Linked DNA regions of Homo sapiens. The protein of the gene in region 2 purifies or fractionates together with the protein of the main gene of each other region. This does not show direct contact. Each region holds a gene or a part of one and is shown on either strand. Other genes may lie near its edges. The genes, in order: ACAD9 and NDUFAF5.

Region 1 (3,812 bases), on a different chromosome or scaffold from region 2:
GAAATGCCCCCAGGGGCTCAGCAAGTGCTGGACATGTGGACGGGGCTCATGTGGAGAGTGAGTTGCAGGGATGAGGCCGGAGACCAGGGGCTCTCCTGCTGGGAGGGAGGGGCTGGACCTAAGAGAGCACAGCAGGATGAGTGGGATATGATGGTGGGCATGGGTATACAGGAGGCAGGCCTGAGACAGGGAGAGGGTTTGGGCCTGAGCAGCAGGTCTGGTGATGAGAGGCATCATCAGCCTCTGGGAGTGTAGTCTTGTCTCCTGGGCCGTCCTGCCCAGTGGGAGGCCTCCTTGGCTGCTTTTGTTCCTGGCCTACCCATTGGGTTCCAGCCATCTCCACTGTTGCAGTGGACATACGGGGCAAGGGCCAGCCTGAGGGCACTGGAGTGGTCTCAGCCCTGCAAAGGGTCTTCTCCAAAGGCCCTTCCCTTAGCCTGGGAGGGTTGGGGTTCTCCAGGGCTGGGGTGGTCAGCAGGGTTCAGGAAGCCCTCAAGGCCTTGGAAGAACACAGGGCTCTCGATGTAGGGTGAGAGCTCCTGTCTGGAGCCTGCTCGGAGCTGGGTGGTCCTGCCAGGAGGCCCCTGCAGTCCCCCCTTTTCCTGTAGGGAGTCCTGCTGTCCGTGATGTCAGCCTGACTGCAGGGGACAGTCCTCAGTCCCTAGTGCTGGCTGTGTAGCCTGGGTCAGGCCCCTGCACCTGACACACAGTACCATTGTGCAGAGTGGGCAGAAGCCCACTGGCCTCTCACTGATCAGAATCATGGGTTGGGGGAGTGGGGAGCATGTGGCCCTCTGGGTGTGTTGACACCTGGCACTGAGGAGGTTCTAGCTGCCACTCAGCAATTTCTGGCTTCCGTGAGGAATCTGGCCTCCACCTGGAGCCAGCAATGTCTGTCTGGCACTGGCTGAGCCCCAGGCATCAGCACCCCTCACCACCCGGGGAAAGCTGGTTTCCATTTTACAGAGGACCTGGAGACTTGGAGAAAGGCTTGACACACGTGAGGCTGGTCACGGAGAGGTGGGGGGGTCCCAGTGGGAGCTCATGGCCATCTGGTCACCTCCCTCCTCATCCCTGTGCACTCCCTGAGCCCTGGCCAGAGCCCTGCTCCCAGCTACTTCAGGAGCAGTGGCTTTTGTGGCAATGGGCAAGCAGGCAGTGGCCGGCTCTACCCAGCACACGTGGCACTACCATGGCTGCCTGGCCGGGGGGCAGCCTTTGACCTCTACACTACTGACCACAGGGAACCAATGAGATTCTCCGGATGTACATCGCCCTGACGGGTCTGCAGCATGCCGGCCGCATCCTGACTACCAGGATCCAGTAGGTGCCATTGTCACCGTGTGCTTCTCAGGTCCCATACCTGCCCAGCAGGGGCCAGTCCAGGGCAGTGGGAGGAAAGAGCTGCCTTGACCTGGAGTGGGGGCATGGGGGTGTGGCGCAGCCTTGTGGAGGGGACCTTCCCCTGTGGTAGTGGGGGGCTTGCTGCCCAGGGAAGCCCTCGCTGCCCTGCCCTTATGGCCACAGCACCCTACAGCTTCAGCATAAATACCGTATCCCCCATCTGGTCCCTCACACTAGAGGCAGCTGGTTTTTCAGAACCTGAAGAATGAGAGGTGTCCCTTTAAAGGTGCCAGGCCTCACAGCCAACATAAGCCAGTGTTTCTCTTCTCTGCCCTTCTTCCCCTCATGCTCCCCTCCACCCCCACCCTAGGGGCACAGTAATCCAAAATCACTGCTGGAGGCCAAGTACAGGTTGCTAGTAGCATTTTGTCTCCTTCACAGGAGACAGCTGCTGGGAAGCTGGCTGTGACTCCACCCCTCATGGGGGAGCATATGTGTGGCTCCCCTGAGGAGACTGGCTGCTCTCTGGCAGGTGGTGGGTTTGGGGGGGTTCAGGCTGTAGCCAGGGGCCCAGCATACCCAGGCCAGAGGGGGGCACGGAGCTTCTGGGTGCCGAATGGGCCATGTTGCTGGACAGTGAGCGCCAGCAGCGAGGCCTCCAGTCACAGGACCATGGACTTTCTGCAGTGAGCTTAAACAGGCCAAAGTGAGCACAGTCATGGATACCGTTGGCCGGAGGCTTCGGGACTCCCTGGGCCGAACTGTGGACCTGGGGCTGACAGGCAACCATGGAGTTGTGCACCCCAGTCTTGCGGTGAGTGGGCCTAACAGGCATACCCCCTATTTCAATGCCCTCCTGCCAGATCTCCTTGTGGCAGAAAAGATCTCACTGTGGGGGGTCTGGGCTTCTCCAGGGGAAGTTGGGGAACACCAGCTAGTCCATGACACCCTGGATTGCTTCCCCCAGATGGGGCATCTCTGCCTGGTACCCGGGCTGTGAGACAGGACAGGGCACTGTAGGGATGAGGTGCTGAACTGAGTCCTGTCTTGGTTAATAGGACAGTGCCAACAAGTTTGAGGAGAACACCTACTGCTTCGGCCGGACCGTGGAGACACTGCTGCTCCGCTTTGGCAAGGTAACCAGGCCCTCCCAGGCCTGGGTCGCAAGCGGTCCTCCAATTTGGCCAGCATTCATGAGACTACTTTTTGTCAAGCATCCTTTGGGACCAGGCCTAGAACAGAAATGTTGATCACCCTGGAGGGATGGGGTGGTGAGGTCAGGCTGACTTTGTCAGCCTGGGGCCCACTTAGCTACTCGGATGGGTACCCTTGCTGGGTGAGTTTTCTGCAGTGTTTTTCTGTGCACCTTTCAGGTAGAGAGGCTCCCTAGAATCGGGAGGGCAGCTCCACCTGGGGCCTGAATCTAGGGACCTGATTGGTGGGGCCCTTGCTGCTGAAGGTGGCAGTAGCACAGTAAGCACTGGCTTCTGGTCTCAGCCAAGCTTCTGGGACCTGGTCTTGCCTTAACCCCTCCCTGAATCTAGAGCTCAAAGAGAAGGGAAAACAGAAGGTGGCTGGGAGCCGTTCTCCCACAACCTGAAGAGAAAGGTGTTATTGACTCCACTTTCTCAAGGAACACAGGAGACTAAGACAGGCAAAGATGCAGCCCAGGGAGGGACCATGTGGGGGACTGGTCTAGGTAGTGAGTCCCCACTTGGAGCCTCTGTGATCCCAGACCATCATGGAGGAGCAGCTGGTACTGAAGCGGGTGGCCAACATCCTCATCAACCTGTATGGCATGACGGCCGTGCTGTCGCGGGCCAGCCGCTCCATCCGCATTGGGCTCCGCAACCACGACCACGAGGTGAGCCCAGCCCAGCCTCACACAGGGCCTGGCTGCTGCCATCTGTCCTGCTGCACTTTAATGAAGTTGATTGTTGAGGAGGGTGTGGTCGGGTGTGGGGGAGGCTGTGCAGGTTCACCATGCGGTGGCCGTGGGAGGGTCTGTGCTGCTCAGGAGATGGGGCTGTTCCCTTTCTTCTTCCTGACTGAGAGAAGAGGGGGTGAGTGACAGGGGTTCCTGATCCCAGTGCCCCTACCCCCAGCAAGGGACAGACCCTGCACATTGCCCGCTGTGCTGGAGGGAGGCGGGTGCAGTCTCTGAGGACCCACTGTATACCAGGATCTCTGCCTGCACTTTCCAGAGCACCTGCAGATACCAGGATTGTGACATCTGCCTTTCAGAGGAAACAGGGTCAGAGATGTTGAGTCACTTGCTGTTGGGGAAAGGCTGTTGGATCAGGGCTGGAATTAGAACCCAAGACGGGGTGACTCCTGTGCCAGGCCTTGTGACCCCTGCCATGCTACCCAGTTTGGCTGATAGGCTGGGTTTTTGAAGCTCAGAGGTCTGATTCCAGGAATTTGGGCATATCTTTTCTGTCCTCGGTTCTGGCAGGTTCTCTTGGCCA
Region 2 (3,812 bases):
CCCTGACAAAACCCTACTTCTAAACCAACTCAACTACCTTCATTCCTGTATCTCAGCTGCCAAGTGTGGCTGAAGGAAGTCACCAATGTGTTCCATCATCCTCAAGTGCACCCTTCAAAAAAAAGTCCCGCCATCTTTTTACAAACAGCCGTAGCACTATATGCCTCTACTTCATAGCACTGACCATAATTCTAATTTAACACTTATCTCTGTGACAGCTGCCTGGTGCCTGCCTCCTCCATTTTATATCAGAAGCTCCATGAAGACAGTCTGCTTTCTCCTCAACAATGGATCCCTAGTGCTTTGCCCAGTGCCTGCCAAAGAGCTGGCTCTCAAAATGTTTCTCTCAAATGGAGTCTAAAAATTCTTTTTTTTTGGCCTACCTTTCCCAATGGAGTCTAAAAATTCTTTAAAGTGCCTTACCTTGTAAATCTTCCATCAATTCAAACATTCCAGGATAGTTAACTTGAATTTCATCAGTGTCCTATTTAAAAAGAAAAAGAAATATTCATTTGACATTCATGATACAAAATTCCAGATTTAAAAAAGAGGCCGCAGAGACTACCCAGACCAATCTCCCATGCTAAGCAAAAAATATTTACAATATTCTTCATAGATGTCATCTGGCTTATGTTTGATTTATGAAAGTCTCTAATTGCTGATTAAATATCCTGCATTGTGAGAGAAATCATCCTAAAACTCCATCATTGGTTCTAGTTCTCTCTTTGGGAACCACACAGAATAAGAGTATTCTGTACCCTACAAACCATTGCCCTCTCCTCCAAGTCTTTGAAAACCTTCAGGACACAAAAATCTGGAGATCCTTACATGTTCTGACTACATGTCCCTGGACAGTGTCAATATCAATCTTTCTTAAAATGGGGCACCTAGAATCAAAATATTTCATTCTATATCTAGTAATGCAGCCAATAGGCTTGTTTAGGAAATGAGCACATTGCTGATACATGTGGAGTTTGTTTCTCAAATGAACAATTGGGTAATGACTTCCTCTTCTTTTTGAAGCCTGATACAGGACTTAACTGTTGGTACAGTGGCAGAGACCACTGATGCTCCCCAAATATCCAGGTGCTCCTTGACACTTCCCAATCTCAAACACATATTTCTTTTGGCCAAAGAAAGGAGGGGCAAGACAGTTAAGAGCTAGAGCCTTTTCCAGGCCATCTCTTTTGCTGTGGTGATCTTATAGAACACAGGGCCAGATTATAGAACACAGGGCCAGATGGCACAGCTACAAGATGGAGATGGGCTGTCCCACCAGCACGCAGCTGTGATGTGATAAAACTTTATTGTGTTAGGCACTAAAAGTAGGGGTTTATTCTTATTGGAAACTAGCCTAAAATAATTTTTTTTTTTTTTAAGACGGATTCTTGCTGTGTTGCCCAGGCTGGAATGCAGTGGTGTGATCTCTGCTCGTTGCAGCCTCTGCCTCCTGAACTCAAGCGATTCTTGTGCCTCAGCCTCCCGAGTAGCTGGGATTACAGGCGCCTGCCACCGTGCCCAGCTAATTTTTTTTTTTTGTATTTTTAGTAGAGACGGGCTTTCACCGTGTTAGCCAGGCTGGTCTCGATCTCCTAACCTTGTGATCCACCAGCCTCAGCCTCCCAAAGTGCTGGGATTCCAAGTGTGGGCCATGGCGCCTGGCTGGAAACTAGCCTAAAATAAATCTAAACATCATTAATAGAGGACTGGTTAAACAAATTAAAGAATATGTATTCTATAAAATACTGTACAGTTCTCAAAAAATAAGGTAGATACATGTCTATAGGAAAAAAATCTCCAAGACATGTTATTGACTGGAAAAAAAAAAGCAAAAGAGTGCATGTAATATTATATAAGTAAGTTTAAATGACATAAGTGTATTCTATGGGTCTATAAAAAAAAGTGGATCTGAAACGATGTCTAAGACACAGCTAACAAATCTTTGGGGAAAGGGACCAGGGTTTGAGAAGTCAGGAGGAGGGACAGGCACGATGGCTCATGCCTGTAATCCCAGCACTTTGGGAGGCCGAGGCAGGCAGATCATGAGGTCAGGAGATCGAGACCATTCTGGCTAACATGGTGAAACCCCATCTCTACTAAAAATACAAAAAATTAGCCAGGCATGGTGGTTGGTGCCTGTAGTCCCAGCTACTTGGGAGCCTGAGGCAGCATAATCGCTTGAACCCGGGAGGCAGAGGTTGCAGTGAGCCGAGATCACGCCACGGCACTCCAACCTGGGTGAAAGAGCAAGACTCCATCTCAAAAAAAAAAAAAAAAATTGCTGGGTGTGATGGCACATGCCCTTGGTCCCAGCTATTTGGGAGGCAGAGGCATGAGAATCCCTTGAACCTGGGAGGCAGAGGTTGCAGTAAGCGGAGATCTCGCCACTGCACTCTAGCCTGGGCAACAGAGGGAGAAGTCAGGAAGAGGAGACTTCGTTTCACTTTACACCCCACTGTATCACTCTCTCTATATATACCTTACTCTTCTTTAAAAAAACATATACGTGTATCAGGTTGTGTATGCTTTTTAATGAGACCTCTAGGTAGTGAGACCATGAACATTCATCATCCATATACTTTTCCATATTAACAAGCTGTTTTTAAGAGGAGATCCTAAGATTAAAAACAAAATTCTTTCCAGGCTGTTATCTAGCCATTAAGCAATATCCTTTGAAAACAATTCTTCAGTGCAACCAACTAAAAGCACTATCTCCACTTCAATCAAAAGAATGCCACAACAGCTTTGTTGAAGGCCTTATTTAAATTAAAAGGGGACCATATCTGCACCATTTTTTTTATTTTATTTTTGAGACGGAGTCTCACTTTGCCACCCAGCGCCCAGGCTGGAGTGCAGTGGTGCGATCTCGGCTCACTGCAACCTCCGCCTCCCAGGTTCAAGCTATTCTACTGCCTCAGCCTCCCAAGTAGCTGGGACTACAGGCCATGTGCCACCACGCCCAGCTAATTTTTTTGTATTTTCAGCAGAGACGGGGTTTCACTGTGTTAGTCAAGATGGTCTTGATCTCCTGACCTTGTGATCTGCCTGCCTTGGCCTCCCAAAGTGTTAGGATTAGAGGCGTGAGCCACCGTGCCAGGCCTTGCACCATTCTCTTAAAGTACTAGTCTGGTAGTTCAGTTCTAAAACGGAAATCAGCTTTACTTAGAATGCTCATTCTCTGAAAATAATTCATTAAGATGAAAATACATTAAGATGTAAATACATCTATATGATACTAATCTGACTCGATTTCACTTTAAAAATAAAAATCCATTGTAGCGTAAAAGTAATATATCTAATGTATGCAACATAAACCTGTATAGCTGATTATACAAAAGCTTTTTTGGATGGGAATTTTTAGAAAATGAATTAGAACACATATTATTATTATTTTTTTTGGAGACAGGATCTTGCTCTGTCACACAGGCTGGAGTGCAGTGGTGAGATCATGGCTCACTGCAGCCTCAACGTCCCAGGCTCAATCCTTCCAACTCAGCCTCCCGAGTAGCTGGGACTACAGGCAGGCCCAGCTATTTAAAAAAATTTTTTTTTAGAGATGAGGACTCCCTATGTTGCCCAGGCTGGTCTTGAAATCCCAGGCTGAAGTGATTCTCTGACCTAGGCCTCCCAAAGTGCTGAGATTATGGGAGTGAACAACTGTGCCTGGCCAGGACGCAATATTAATACAGCACCTCAGAAACAAAACTGTATACATGCCTCACAGGATAAATGTAATGATTCAAGAAGACATTCTCATAACTTTCTTATTAAATCAGCAACTTTCTAATTGTATAAACTAAAGAAGATTCTAC

What was found.
Region 1: the proteins of NDUFAF5 (region 2) and ACAD9 purify together in Homo sapiens (co-immunoprecipitation; one large-scale study listed by IntAct). This does not show direct contact.

The regions. Positions count from the first base shown.
Region 1 is NC_000003.12:128,906,942-128,910,753, forward strand, and holds part of ACAD9 (complex I assembly factor ACAD9, mitochondrial), read left to right. Parts: intron 1-1,243; coding exon 1,244-1,323; intron 1,324-2,031; coding exon 2,032-2,158; intron 2,159-2,402; coding exon 2,403-2,480; intron 2,481-2,931; exon of another isoform or gene 2,932-3,079; coding exon 3,080-3,208; exon of another isoform or gene 3,209-3,322; coding exon of another isoform or gene 3,323-3,392; intron 3,393-3,799; coding exon 3,800-3,812. UniProt on the Homo sapiens protein: As part of the MCIA complex, primarily participates in the assembly of the mitochondrial complex I and therefore plays a role in oxidative phosphorylation.
Region 2 is NC_000020.11:13,805,514-13,809,325, reverse strand, and holds part of NDUFAF5 (arginine-hydroxylase NDUFAF5, mitochondrial), read right to left. Parts: intron 485-3,812; coding exon 424-484; intron 1-423. UniProt on the Homo sapiens protein: Arginine hydroxylase that mediates hydroxylation of 'Arg-111' of NDUFS7 and is involved in the assembly of mitochondrial NADH:ubiquinone oxidoreductase complex (complex I, MT-ND1) at early stages. May also have methyltransferase activity.